2 linked regions of the Homo sapiens genome follow. The protein of the gene in region 1 binds, or shares a complex with, the protein of each later gene. Each region holds a gene or a part of one and is shown on either strand. Other genes may lie near its edges.

The links.
Region 2: the proteins of TCAIM (region 1) and OGDH are in contact, whole or in part, in a cryo-EM structure (PDB 8I0K), measured with the Homo sapiens proteins. Residues at the interface, in NP_001269842.1 of Homo sapiens: Glu214, Gln234, Arg235, Ser236, Trp237, Gly238, His241, Ser244, His247, Ser248, Arg251, Gln255, Asp272, Arg273, Thr286, Met287, Asp288, Val289, His290, His291, Glu331, Leu332, Gln333, Pro334, Val335, Arg375, Tyr376, Glu441, Ser443, His473; in NP_001425937.1 of Homo sapiens: Gly301, Tyr304, Arg323, Tyr354, Arg356, Ile358, Arg364, Asn365, Lys387, Glu391, Tyr394, Cys395, Gly396, Thr398, Glu399, Lys401, Lys402, Lys561, Met602, Pro605, Glu667, Gly668, Ile669, Asn709, Met734, Ala735, Ser736, Pro737, Asn738, Gln772.

Annotation. Positions count from the first base shown.
Region 1 is NC_000003.12:44,334,133-44,341,789, reverse strand, and holds the start of TCAIM (T-cell activation inhibitor, mitochondrial), read right to left. Parts: upstream 3,025-7,657; 5' UTR 2,956-3,024; intron 1-2,955. UniProt on the Homo sapiens protein: May regulate T-cell apoptosis.
Region 2 is NC_000007.14:44,693,627-44,700,656, forward strand, and holds part of OGDH (2-oxoglutarate dehydrogenase complex component E1 isoform 1 precursor), read left to right. Parts: intron 1-198; coding exon 199-378; intron 379-797; coding exon 798-950; intron 951-2,398; coding exon 2,399-2,501; intron 2,502-2,802; coding exon 2,803-2,931; intron 2,932-3,287; coding exon 3,288-3,438; intron 3,439-3,743; coding exon 3,744-3,871; intron 3,872-3,977; coding exon 3,978-4,156; intron 4,157-4,565; coding exon 4,566-4,637; intron 4,638-6,514; coding exon 6,515-6,643; intron 6,644-7,030. UniProt on the Homo sapiens protein: 2-oxoglutarate dehydrogenase (E1o) component of the 2-oxoglutarate dehydrogenase complex (OGDHC). Participates in the first step, rate limiting for the overall conversion of 2-oxoglutarate to succinyl-CoA and CO(2) catalyzed by the whole OGDHC.

The DNA.
Region 1 (7,657 bases):
AAGCTTAAGTAGAATATGCATAAGGGATTTAGCCACATTTAGTAAATAAAAAATTCATTACAGTTGCAACTATTATTATGTCAGAGTGTATTAAAAAATGGCATAATTTTTTTCCATCTAATGTCAGATAACATATTGCTCAAACATGCAGTTCAATACAACATTTTATTCAAAAACAAATTTTGAAAAACTTTGTTGAAAAACTCAGAATTATCACAATAAGGAGTCAATGTCTGAAGGTCTTAAACACAAGGTAGTAGGCAATTTTGCCAAGGCTACATACAATTCAAAAAGTACAGATGAATAATTTCACAAATTTTTCTCTAGAAAAATACTTTTAATTCATCAGAATTAAAAAATAGCTAGTTGTTTACTTTTACCATTTGAAGACAAAGGTGGCACTTGCTAACCAATAAAAACACAAGTTTTGATGGAAGTAGCATTTCTCTCTTCAAAATAAAAACCTAAAGTGAATATAATAAAGTTATATTGTGCTGTGGGAATTGTCTTTTTATGAATTAATACTGACTTTTTAAAGACAGTGTTCTGGGTCATGGAGAAACAATGAGAGAGCAATAGGGGAGAAATGAGAGGGAATGTGACTTTTCCTTTTTCCAATAATTCTCCTCTCTCCCACAATGGCAGCCAATTCATATTTCTAGAGGAAAATGCCTATATATATAAAAATATATTCAGTTAATAATTCTGCTATCCATTCAACAAAATTATTGCTCTAAGATGATCACTTCCTATACAAATCATTGGAAAAAATTAAAAATATATTTTCTCGTTCTGTTTAAGAATAAGAATGAAAAACCGAGTACTATGAGTCTTTTGAGTATTTCCTGTAAGCTCTTCAAGAATGGGCTCTGACGACTAAGTGACAGATGAGGATCCAGTTTTGGAAAAGAAGAAAGGGACAGGGTAGGAAGGAGAGAAAGAAATAACTCTTAGGGCAGTGGTTTTCAAAGCAGCAACAGCATCCGTGAGAAATGCAAATTATCAGGTCCCATCCGAGTCCTGCAGAATCAGAATCTGGGTGGGATGGAGGAATCTGTTTTAACACACTGTCAGGGATTCTGATGCACACTCAGGTTTGAGAACCACTGTATTAGGGAATCCTGATTCTATCACCAAAGAGGATTCTGGGGCATCTGTTAATGTTTAAGCTTTAATTCTTTAAAAATAATTATTTAATACAAACTTGGATCTTTAGCTACCCAATTTATGCTAAAAATCAAAGGAGGATTTCAAGTTTTTGCTTGAATTAGTTCTTTGTTTCCTGTATGGTTTATGTACTTTTCAGATTAAAAAAACCAAAATTCTAAGTAGAGACAATGTCCAGCAGGTTGGCAGGCATGGCTGCCTGCCGCTTCACAACGCCCAGATCTTGGGTTAGTCTTCAACCTTGTAAGAACAGAACCCAATTTTATCACTTCAAGACAGAAATACGTGGGCCTTGGGGAAGCTAAATTAGAAGGCCTGATAACTGGAATGTCAATCTGTAAATTTACTTTGAGATTATAACTGCTAAGACAACTAGAAGATTCAGATCTAATGTTCTTCCTCTTTCAGGACTAGCTACACAGAAAATCAAATTACTATCAGCTGACTGAAGACACATTGCTTCAGAGTAGAGTTGGGTGCTCTCATTCAGACACTAGCTCCAAAAGTCTGGGACATCCACATCAACCGCAGGCTTCTCGTCTTCAGATAAATTCTTACATAGGTGGTTCCTGTCCATACTGCACTTAGCCCACTATACTTCCACTTGGAAAATGCTATAAAATAACTGAAGAGGTTGCACTGTCTTATCACACTTGGGAGGCATACCGAGTCTTTAACTCACCCATTCATCACCACTTATGGGCCAGGTCCTGCGTAAAGCATTGGGACTAGAAAATTATTAAGACAATTCTAATACTCAAAAGACTTTTAGAGGGAGGGGGGAGTGTAAAAACAGACACAAGCAGATAAGTATAAAACAACGCAGTAAATGCAATAATACAAACATGCACAGAATATGAGAAACTCCCAGACGCAACACTTGGAATGGGGCGGGGAGAGCTCAGGAAGGTCTTCTCTAAGGAAATGGTGCCTTTCCTGGAAGAGGGCAGAGGACCGGGAAGGATAAAATTTATTTACAAACCATTGTAAATGACTACTTTAATCTACTTAACAGTGATATTAGTTTCTGTTTCATAAAGTGAAAATTTCTAATTTTACCTAAAATCTGTTCTAAGTGAGGCATTAAATCTGTGCAGTTTCAAACCAAATTTGGTGGAAAGATACCTAAATCAGTGAAAAATCCAAATTATGGAAGAGTACACGAAAAACGGTTTTGTTTTGCTTACTTTCAACTAACACCGAGTGTGTGCCAAATAGAGCTCTCAGGATTGAGCTTTGACCATTTGGCACAACTTTTATTTGAAAGTAATTTATTTTAACAAAATTAATATCATGCCACTCTCATTTGAACTGTGACTTCCCTTAGTGACTATCTTGTACGGTTTCTGAAAGCAGTTTGTTATATCAAGGAGGGACAAAAGCGGTAATTTTCATGGCTTTTCAGTTGAATATGAACTTCTTAGAGTAGGGGAAAAAGGCAAAGAAAAAGAGCAAAAGCAGGAAATGCTATTAGATACATTAGCCTAGATTCTGTAGCTTCCTTTTCTAAATCTCGCTATATGAGATTTAGTACGTAACAATTTCCCGTAAATCAAAGACCTCGGAAAAATATAAGTCGGAAACAATAAAACCTAAATCGTCTTTGCGTTCTCATTTCACAGCGAGTTAAAATGTAGATGCGATGCGGATACTGCGTCCCCTGGCACTGCCTCAATTCAAAAGTTAGCACTTTGCGCTAAGGTGGCTCTGAGCACTCCCCTCCGACCCCGCTTCCCCCCTAGAGGAGCATGAATGCACCACCGGAGCCCCTCCCCTCTTGCTCCTTACAGTTCTGGCAAGGGTCCGACGCGAGGGCTTTGTCCGACTAGTTCCACCTCCCACCCAGTACACCAGAAGGGAGGACAGTCGCTCCGCCCGCAGGGCTGTTCGGACGCGCATGCGCACTGGGGCGTCAGCTGGCCAACCAGCGCGCGACGCACGGCCAGGCGCTCCCACCTGCCCTCGCCCCGGTGGGCGACAGGCTTTGACGGGCTCCTAGCCGCAGTGCCCTCTGAGCCCCCAACCCTGAATTCTCAGCTGGGCCCTCCCGGCTCCACCTGCCCCCAACACCCTCCCCGCTCCGGCGGCGGCAGGGCGCTCGAGGCAAGCCCGGGCAGGGGGACGAGCTGCAGGTGACGCCCTGGTTGGCTGGAGCGTGCCAGGCCTTCCCCCTACGGCGCCTGCGCACAGCCAGGGCGTGGATTCAACCTTCCGCGGTGCCCTGCCTCTAGCTGACGTCAGCACCCTGGTAACTGCTGCACCTTCGCCGCGCGCTTTGAGCCCCCGCCCCTCCGCCTTCTTACCGGCCGCCCTGAGGGGTCTCGGCGCGCTCGGCTGAGAGCTTTAGGAGGCGCGAGCGAGCACTCCGACTAGGCCGGAGGGACTCGGAAAATGATGGTCCGGCAGGTGGTGGGTCCTGACCCAAGGGCCTGCAAGGAACGGAGAAGGGCAACCGAGCACGCGCTGGATCTTGGGGAAGAAGGGGAAAGGGACTGCTGGAGGAGGCGCGCATGCGCCGTGCGGTCCTTCGCCCCGGGCGCCCTGGCAGGGGGCGAGGCTCTGCGGAACTCCCGGAGCTGGCGCCAGGGAACAAGTCTCAGTGGAGAGCCTCGAATTTTAAAAGTCTCATTTAAGTATTTCTTTTGGTTTTCCTTGTATAAATATAGCTAACTTTTAAACATTTCTTTTCCGGCTTGTGTTGTTTGCTTTGGACCCTTCAGCACCTATTTTTAAACGTTAAGCATTCCCCAGTCAGCATGAAAGTTTTACTGTTAGTTTTATTTTGTTCCTATAATTTTGATTCCCCCCAGAAACTGCCACAGATGAAATCAAGCCAATAGAATTGAAAGCAAAGATCACCTGGTGGCCATGAAGCCGACCATCCTTAGGCAGAAACTCCTTACCTGAGGAATTTAGAGGTAACTAGACTTCCCTGTTACCTAAAGCCAGCATCTGGTACCAGACTTCTTCCCTCCAAATTTAAAAGTAACTAGAATTTCTATGCATCTCCGTAATGCACGCATGTCAAAACTCATTGTGCACCCCTTGCCATCTGCTCCATGCCCCAATCAACCCCTGTCCCCTACCATCCAGATACTTTATTACCCTCACATACTTGCACAGGAGTTACATATGCCACTAGTACAAAGTCCTCAGAAAATCCCCCAAGTGTTATGCCTCTCCACAAGGTGGCAAACGGAGATTTGGGAACAATTTGAGTTCATGTCCCTTTTCCATTGTCTGAACTTTGGCAAATTCAATCCAAGTTGGGTTCATTTAGCCAGGATCCCTCTAAGTTCATTCAAGAATTTCGGGCTTTATTGCCTTTGATTTAACCTGGCAAGACACATTTGTGGTATTAACTATTTGCTGTTCCCACGAAGAAAAAATCACGGTCTTTAGCTCGAGTTTGGGCAGACGAAACTCATGTTGGCAATCCTAATAATAGAGCCAGGGCAGAAGCTGTCCCCAACACAGAACCCAATTGGCAATACCACGCTGCCAATGCCAGCCCAAACAGAGACAGGGGAAGAGAAGATTATAACATGTTTGTTGGAAGGAATGAAATAAAACCTGTTAATTTTTCTAAATTATGAGAGATCACTCAGGACCAAGGACCCTTCCCTTTTCCAAGCTAGACTAATGGAGGCCATGCATAAATATACAGATTTAGATCCTGAAAGCCCTGAGGGCCAATCCCTTCTGGCCATACATTTTATAAGTCAGGCTTCCCCAGACATCAGACAAAAACTCCAAAAATTAGAGCAAGGCCCACAAACTCCCTTTTGTACTTTATTAAAAGCAGCCTTTAAGGACACTGAAGTTGAGAATGTCCCAAACCTCCAGGTTGCAAGCCATCCCTGGGACCCTGTCCTCACTGCAAATTGGAAGAATGAGTGTCCCTCCCTCATGAAGGGGGGGCCACCTCTTCCTTCTAGGCTATGACAGCCACAGTCTCACCAACCTACCTGACAAGGGGATCCTGCAGAACGAGGGTGAGGGTGAGGGCGAGAGCAAGGGCAAACACCTCTAATTCTATTCCTGGATTATGATCAAGCCTCTGAAATGTCAGTCATCCATCCTCTAGATGGGGCCTTGAAGCCATCCACGGCCCTGTCTTTTCCATCTCTGTGGATGATCCCAGGGCAAATCTGATTGTGGCTGAACAACAGATAATGTTACTCATAGATACACGGGACAGTTATTCAGCTTTATAAACATTTACTATGGCCCAATGTGCCAGTCCTCCATTTTCCTCATGGATATTGATGGAAAACCCCAATGAGGCTGTTTCACACAGCCATTCCCTTGTAAAATGAAAGGCTATTCCTTTACTCCTTTTTAGCCCTGTTCTATTAGGTTGTGATTTACAAAATTACAAGCTAATTTACAGCTAAGGCCCCACCTTCTAGCTGTATTAACACTTCACCAAAAGAGCCCCTGCAGCTTCTCCCAGATAGCAATCTACTTCAGTATGTGGATGACTTACTAATCTGTAGTCCTAACCAGGCTGTTCCAGACCAAAATACAGTATTAGTATTCAACAAACTTGCTAATTGTGGGTACAAAGTATCTCCTTCTAAAGCACAAATATCCACACAAAGGGTTCAATTTTGGGGTCTTATTTTAATTCCCAGTGAAAAAGCCTTTGTAGTGCTTGTACAGATCTTAAACGTGACAATTGTGGTAACTAAACAACAGCTTCAGTCATTTTTGGGTAAGGCTGGGTTTTGCAGAATATGGATTCCTTCCTTTGAGTTAATAGCAAAACCTTTATATGAAGCCCTCAAGGGAACTCAGGAACAGTCTCTATACTGGACTAATGAGATGAAGCATGCTCTAAACACTTTAAAATAGGCTTTAATCTCAGCCCTGACCTCAGCCCTACCAGATCTGACTAAGCCTTTTTCTATGTACATGAACAAAAGGGAATAGCTTTGGGAGTCTTAGCCCAAGATTGAGGGGCCCTCTAAGTGCCCTATAGCATTTTTTTTTCTTTGAGATGGAGTCTCACTCTATTGTTCAGGCTGGAGTGCAATGGCATGACCTTGGATCACTGCAACCTCTGCTTCCCAAGCTCAAGTGATTCTCCTGCCTCAGCCTCCCAAGTATCTGGGATTATAGGTGTGCACCACCGCGCCCAGCTAATTTTTGCATTTTTAGTAGAGTCAGGGTTTCACCATGTTGGCCAGGCTGGTCTCAAACTCCTGACCTCGTGATCTGACTGCCTCAGCCTCCCAAAGTGCTGGCATTACAGGTGTGAGCCACTGTGCCTGGCCCCTATAGCATATTTAAAAAAAAACTTTAGACCTAGTATGCCAGGGATGGCTTAAGAGCCTTAGCAGCGGTGGCCCTTAGTGCAAGAAGCCTCAAAAATGTATTACCTGCCCCTCCTGAACTCTTATGGTTTTGTGGCACTGCTATTAATTATTTAAATCCTTTTCAAGCTTTGGCCCTATCCCACCTTGATAATTCTCTTCGTTATGATGATTGTACCCTGGGTACAATAGCTCCTGCCCAAATCACTGTCTTAAACATAACTTCCAATCTAGAATCCCATTCTAGATGAAAAAGGGCCCTAGGACTTATTGTTGGAGTTGTGGGAATCATCACAACTCTCACCCCTTGGGGAGGTTGTACTTATCATGAAATCACACTATGTGAACATGCTGCCTCCCTCACAATCGCAAAAACTAGCACAAGTCTATCAGCACTAGAAAAGTCTGTAGCCTCACTAGCAGGAATGGTTGTTGATATCAGAAGGGCTCCAGATTACCTCCTAGCTGAATAAGGAGGAGTCTGTGCTGTCATTAACAAAATGTGTTGCACCTACATTAATGTGTCTGGAGAAGTGGAAGCTGATGTCCAAGAAATTTTCAAACAAACCAAATGGCTACACACACCTTCTCAAAGTAACCCAAAGTGGGCCAAAATCCTTACTAATTGGTTCCCAAAAATCACCTGGTTTCTCCCATTCCTTGGACCTTTATTCCTCATTATTCTTCCTCTAATATTTGGTCCCTGCCTCTTTAATGCTCTCATTAAGTTTCTATCTTCCAGATTACAATGATTCCACCTACAGATGATTATGTAATCCCAATACCAGCCTGCAACAGCAACTTCCACATATATGGGGCCTCTTGATGGAATCCGGTGTCTCCTGTCCCCAGTAAGTTTTTCATAACCCTTCATGACACAGAGCAAGAAAGGGAAAAATGTGACTTATCCCCTCAATGCTCCCTTTCAGCAAGAAGTAGCCAGACAGACCTGACACCCCTCTTCACTGTGCCGTTTCCCCTTTCTTGAAACCATAATAGGCAGAAGGTACAGAGGAGCATGGGGGATTCGAAAGGGTCAAATATTTGACCAAGATATCTGTCAGGGGGAAAATGAGGAGAGCAAAGATCACCTGGTGGCCATCAAGCAGACTATCTGCAGGCAAAACTCCTTACCTGAGGAATTTAGAAGTGATTAGACTTCCCCATTATAA
Region 2 (7,030 bases), on another chromosome or scaffold:
CTATGTTAAATATATATGGATTTTGTTATCAGAATAGGAAAAAACAAAGGAAAAGAAAAAGTGTAAACAGCCATTTTGGGGTACGTACTCAGAGTAGCCAGATGGCAAGTGCATGCCATGCCCGGCCTCAGCCCCGCCCTCTGGTCCCTGTGCCGGCTGTGCCAGGTGCCCTCTTGCTAGGCTACATGTTCCTTGCAGATCGGCTTCACCACCGACCCTCGGATGGCCCGCTCCTCCCCCTACCCCACTGACGTGGCCCGAGTGGTGAATGCCCCCATTTTCCACGTGAACTCAGATGACCCCGAGGCTGTCATGTACGTGTGCAAAGTGGCGGCCGAGTGGAGGAGCACCTTCCACAAGGACGTGGTTGTCGATTTGGTGAGTGACTCTGGGGACAGCACGTCCTGGGCAGAGCATCTGACCCACCCCTCTTGCCCTCGGCACCCCTGTGTCCCAAGGAGAGGAGCTTGTCTAGATGAGTCACCTCAGGGCTCTCTACTGCCAGGCCTCATGCTGGTTCCTTTGAGCTCCAAATAGTTCAGGCCTGTAAGCACCAAGGAATGCTTCCCAGGCAGGAGCTGTGGTGGTGAGGAGGGCCACTCCTCATTGACAGAGCAGCTCTACTGTGTGAAGGAGAGATACACAGAATCCTAATTCTAGAGAAGGTAAACTCCAGGGCAGGCATGAGGAATGAAGAACGTGGCCATCACCTAGGAGAGATGGGGCAGGTGCCTGAACAGCACTTCTTCCCAAGGGGCCAGCCCTTGTCTCTGACATCCTCTCACTGCTCTGAGCAGGTGTGTTACCGGCGCAACGGCCACAACGAGATGGATGAGCCCATGTTCACGCAGCCGCTCATGTACAAGCAGATCCGCAAGCAGAAGCCTGTGTTACAGAAGTACGCTGAGCTGCTGGTGTCGCAGGGTGTGGTCAACCAGCCTGAGTATGAGGTACGTCCCTGCGGCTCTATCCCAGTGCGCCTTTCCAGGGCTGGCGATGACTAGAAAAGGTGGGCCACAGGGCCAGTTCTCACTTTTGCCAGTTATGAGGATACACGTGAGAGGATGTGAAATATTTACAACTACAGCATTTCAATGCATAACTTTTTGGAGAATCTGGGCCACTGAGATGCTTTATAAAGGAAGTGGGCCTTAAACAGTGTTTTGGGGAAGGGAAGGGGATGTTTTCAGGTTGAGGTAGTAGCAGCCCAGTAGGTTTTCTCAGATTTCACAAATTGTGCATGGTTGAGAGGTGGGTGGTGGATCCAGCTTGGTAAGGGGCCTGTTGTAATCTGGATAGTAAGTGCTGGTTGGTTGTGAGTGGGAAGGCCAAGCAGCTGCCCTAGAGAGGGAGAGGGTGGGTGTGAGGAGCTATATCTGAGCATGGGAACAGGACAGATCCCAGATCAGAACAACCTGATAGCCTGTAGCCTATGCTGGAGACAGAGCTTTGTGAACCAGTTTTTTTTTTGTTTTGTTTTGTTTTTTGAGACGGAGTCTAGCTCTGTCACCCAGGCTGGAGTGCCGTGGCATGATCTTAGCTCACTGCAACCTCCACCTCCTTACTTCAAGCAGTTTTCATGTCTCAGCGTCCCAAGTACCTGGGATTACAGGTGCGAGCCACCACGCCTAGCTAATTTTTGTATTTTTAGTAGAAACAGGGTTTCCCCGTGTTGGCCAGGCTGGTCTTGAACTCCTGACCTCAAGTGATCTGCCTGTCTTGGCCTCCCAAAGTGCTGGGATTATAGGCATGAGCCACTGCGCCTGGCCTGGACCAGTTCTTAAGAAAAAATGTGGTGGGCTGGGCGTGGTGGCTCATGCCTGTAATTGCAGCACTTTGGGAGACTGAGGCAGGTGGATCATGAGGTCAAGAGATCGAGACCATCCTGGCCAACATGGTGAAACCCCGTCTACTAAAAATACAAAAATTTGCTGGGCGTGGTGGCACGCACTTGTAGTCCCAGCTACTCAGGTGGCTGAGGCAGGAGAATCGCTTGAACCCGGGAGGCGGAAGTTGCAGTGAGGCAAGATCGCGCCATTGCACTCCAGCCTGGTGACAGAGCATGACTCCGTCTCAAAAAAAAAAAAAAAAAGTGGTGAAGGGTTAGGGGTTCAAACTCCGAGCAGAATCTCTACCCAGCAAATGTGAGGAAGAAACTTTTGGGAGTGAAAAGAATAAAATCTTAGAAAGGTGTTATGCCTATTGAGAAGGAGCAGGCCCAGAGGCTGAGATGTTTTGCATCCACGAAGTGTGGGACTATGGGTGGGCATGCACGGGAGTTGTGCCAGGGGTATGGTTGGGCTTGCGTGGTGGCTGTCAGAAAGTGTGGGGGTACAGGTGGGCGTGTGCAGTAGTCATGCCCTGTGCCAGTCACGCTGTGTTGTGCCCAACCCTCCAGGAGGAAATTTCCAAGTATGATAAGATCTGTGAGGAAGCTTTTGCCAGATCTAAAGATGAGAAGATCTTGCACATTAAGCACTGGCTGGACTCTCCCTGGCCTGGTGAGTGAAGAAACAGTGCCACAAATAAGCTCCTTTGAGGATCTGATGTAACGAGGCATCCTCTTCCCAGAAAAAATTCATGCTTTCCACTTTGTACCCACAATGCACAGTTGTATGCACCATTTCAGCAAAGCCCCCTGCAGACCCTGGACCCAGACCCCTGCATTAATGTTTTCTGGGGAACACAGTGTGAGCTACATTGTCTCTCACCCTGCTTCTCCCCAAAATCACGTGTCTGCCATTTTGTGGTCCCTGGAAAAGTAGAGCAGATGTCATGCCTCAGTTGTTCTTCTTCTCCTAGGCTTCTTCACCCTGGACGGGCAGCCCAGGAGCATGTCCTGCCCCTCCACGGGTCTGACGGAGGATATTCTGACACACATCGGGAATGTGGCTAGTTCTGTGCCTGTGGAAAACTTTACTATTCATGGAGGTAACACGCTCTGTGCTGACCTGTGGAAATGTTGGGGCCCAGGCCAGGGGCGACGACTGTCTAGGACTGTGACCTTGGCCCCCACCCATCATGTGTCCTACAGAGACTCCCTTCCTGCCCTGCTCAAGGCCTCTGGGGTGGTTGGATGGAGCCACCTCTCCCACTCCCTGCCCTTAGCACGATCCTACACTTCCTCAGTGGTAAAGGAGAGACTGAGGTCACAGCTTTTCCAGCAAGTCAGGAACCCAGAAACTACGAGTAAAGAAGGCTCCGCTCTTGCCATGGGCACGCTGAGAAGCAAGGCAGGCATGTGCAGGCAGGGCCTGCAGCAGCTGGTGAGAGCTGTGTCTCTGCAGGGCTGAGCCGGATCTTGAAGACTCGTGGGGAAATGGTGAAGAACCGGACTGTGGACTGGGCTCTAGCGGAGTACATGGCGTTTGGCTCGCTCCTGAAGGAGGGCATCCACATTCGGCTGAGCGGCCAGGACGTGGAGCGGGGCACATTCAGGTAACGTTCTGGGCAGTTTTGTTTGCCCTCCAAAGAGTAGAAGATGGAAAGGGAGGGGTTCTGGTGTTTCTTTTCCGGAAGACGGTTAGAAACCGGAAGAGTCACATTGCTCTCAGGCTGAAAACCTCTGTCCCTCATTTGCTATGGGTGCTTCTGTTAAGACCTGGGTGGGGCCGACCCTGCAGCTGCCTGGCCAGAAGTCCAGGTCACAGAGCATGGCATCTGCTGGTGCTTCGTGCGGGTCCCCAGCGTATTTGCTTGTCAAGTCAGAGCTCCTAATTATTACCTCTGTTGTCCTGTCTCAGCCACCGCCACCATGTGCTCCATGACCAGAATGTGGACAAGAGAACCTGCATCCCCATGAACCATCTCTGGCCCAATCAGGCCCCCTATACTGTGTGCAACAGCTCACTGTCTGAGTACGGCGTGCTGGGTGAGTGCCTGGAGCCACACCACCAGGGCCTGTCACCCACCCACCCCCGCTGGGCCTACTGGCTGGTGTCCTGGACATGGTTTTCTCCTTCCTTTGTCCCTTGTAGGCTTTGAGCTGGGCTTCGCCATGGCCAGTCCTAATGCCCTGGTCCTCTGGGAAGCCCAATTTGGTGACTTCCACAACACGGCCCAGTGTATCATCGACCAGTTCATCTGCCCGGGACAAGCCAAGTGGGTGCGGCAGAATGGCATCGTGTTGCTGCTGCCCCATGGCATGGAGGGCATGGTGAGCCTCTGGCCCTTCCCTGCCAGACCTAGGACTTGGGAAGGGCCTGTGTAGGACCCTGACCCCAAAGACTGGCACGAGAGCCAGTGGCTCACACCAGCCTCCTAAGGACTCTGCTGGTGCTTCCCATCCATCTCAGATGGGATGTCACTTCAGAAAGCCAGAGTAGCCCATCTGGATGTGGCTAGCATGCCCCGTCCCTGCTGGTGCAGACTCCCTAGATGCACAGGCGTCCAAGTGTGGAAATGATGAGCCAAGTGCTTTGCTGGTGGGAGGGGGAAGGAACTGAACCCTGCCATCAAGAAAAAAGATAACCAGAAATGAGCTAGTTGGTTGAGGAGGAACAGCAGATGCGGCAAATGTCAGTACGCAAGAGCTCTTAAACTGTAACTTGCGTGTGTGGTTCCAGGGTCCAGAACATTCCTCCGCCCGCCCAGAGCGGTTCTTGCAGATGTGCAACGATGACCCAGATGTCCTGCCAGTGAGTAATACAGGCCCTGTCAGCCCAGCCATTCTCGGGGTGTCTGGTGGGAAACCTGGGGAAGAGCAATCTATCTGGTCATCCTGAAGTGGCAGACCGTGCCTCTGTCCCTTTCTCCATCCTGGGGAGCTCACGTGAGTGGACAGGTGTGGCCCCATGCTTCTGGGCGCCCTGGGATGAGAGACTTCCTCAGAGCACAGAGGAAGGTGCAGGGACTGCCTCCATTGGCTTCCTGCTGTTGCTGCAAGCACAGAAACGCCATGTGAGCTCCTCAGCAAGGGCTCCTGCGGGATGCTTCCAGACCCTGATTCAGGTCTGGAAGCCCTGAGGAGGAGAGAACTTTGGGGCGATTCCAGTGAAACTTTAAGAACTCAAAGAACCAGCCTGGGCAACATGGTGAGACCCCGTCTCTACAAAAATTTTAAAAAGTAGCTGGGCGTGATGGTGCACGCCTGCAGTCCCAGCTACTTGGGAGGCTGAGGTGGGAGGATTGCTTGAGCTTGGGAGGTCAAGGCTGCAGTGAGCCAAGATCGTGCCACTGCACTCCAACCTGGGTGACAGAGCAATACCCTGTCTTAAAAAAAAAAAAAAAAAGAACTGTGCTGGGTGTGGTGGCTCAAGCCTGAAATCCCAGCACTTTGGGAGGCCCAGGCAGGCGGATCATGAGGTCAGGAGTTTGAGACCAGCCTGGCCAATATGGTGAAACCCTGTCTTTACTAAAAATACAAAAACTAGCTGGGCATGGTGGCGCCCACCTGTAATCCCAGCTAGTCTGAGGCTGAGGCAGGAGAATTGCTTAAACCCGGGAAGCAGAGGTTGCAGTGAGCCAAGATTGTGCCGCTGCACTCCAGCCTGGGCAGCTCCGTCTCACAAAAAAAGAACTGGCCAGGCGCAGTGGCTCACGCCTGTAAGCTCAACACTTTGGAGGCCCAGGCAGGTGGATCACGAGGCCAGGAGTTTGAGACCACCCTGGCCAATATAGTGAAACCCCGTCTCTACTAAAAATACAAAAATTATTCAGGCGTGGTGGCGGGCACCTGTAGTCCCAACTACTCAGGAGGCTGAGGCAGAGAATCGCTTGAACCCGGGAGGTGGAGGTTGCAGTGAGCCAAGATTGCGCCACTGCACTCCAGCCTAGGCGACAGAGGGAGACTCCTGTCTCAAAAAAAAAAAAAAAAAAAAAAAACTCAAAGAAAATGATTAGGTGTCAGTGTCTAAGGAAAATTGGTTTTAGGTAGAACTTGTGTCTCTTAAAGTGGTATTTGTTTCATGCTGGGCAATAGCTTTCAGAGAAATAGTATGGATTGAGTGGGACTGAGGCTCTCCTCCAGGGTATGAGGCTGGCCGAAGGAGCTTGCTGGACTCACTTGTTAGTGTCAGCTTATGTCTCCTGGGGAGTCAGTGTGTTAGGCCATTCTTGTGTTGCTATAAAGAAAAACCTGAGACTGGGTAATTTATAAAGAAAAGTTTAATTGGCTCACAGTTCTGTAGGCTGTACAGGAAGCATGATGCTGGCATCTGCTCAGCTTCTGGGGAGGCCTCAGGAAGCTTACAATCATGACAGAAGATGAAGTGGGAGAGCAGGCATGTCACATGGCCAGAGCAGGAGTAAGAGAGTGGGGGAGAGGGGCCACACACTTTCAACAACCAGATCTCGTGTGAACTCAGAGTGAGAGCTCACTCATCACCAAGGGGATGGCCCAAGCTCTAATCCTAACACCTCCCACCAGGCCCCACCTCCAGCAGTGGGAGATTACAATTCAACATGAGATTTGGGCAGGGACAAATATCCAAACTAGATCACCTGAGGGCCCCCACATGCCCCAGAAGACTCAGTGCTGTGTCCTGGCCTCTGGCCATTTCCTTCCCTGCTGCAGGACCTTAAAGAAGCCAACTTCGACATCAATCAGCTATATGACTGCAATTGGGTTGTTGTCAACTGCTCCACTCCTGGCAACTTCTTCCACGTGCTACGACGCCAGATCCTGCTGCCATTCCGGAAGCCGGTCAGTGGCAGGGCCTCCCTTGCTCAAACGAGGCCTGGCCCTGCCCTGTTGGTGCAGGGAAGGGCTCCTCAGAGAGCCTCTTGCTTGGGGTTAGCTAGGTGGGCACCTGCAGGGGTAGTGTGGACAGGACATGGTGTCAGGGAGCCTCGCCCTTCCTCCTCACTGCTGCCATGAGGGAACTGCGTGTTCTGTGTGTCCTCTTCCCCGACTGGGCCCCTGCATACTGCTGAGCACCACATGCGGAGCAATCACATAGGCTGCAGGCCCCAGCCCGGTGGGGAGGACGGATGTTTGAACAGGTGGTCATAGGGGGTGTGCTGAGCTCTGGAAGAGAGGTGAGCCCTGGCAGAGGCCAAGGGAGTGCAGGGTCCCCAGGGAGCGGCTCCT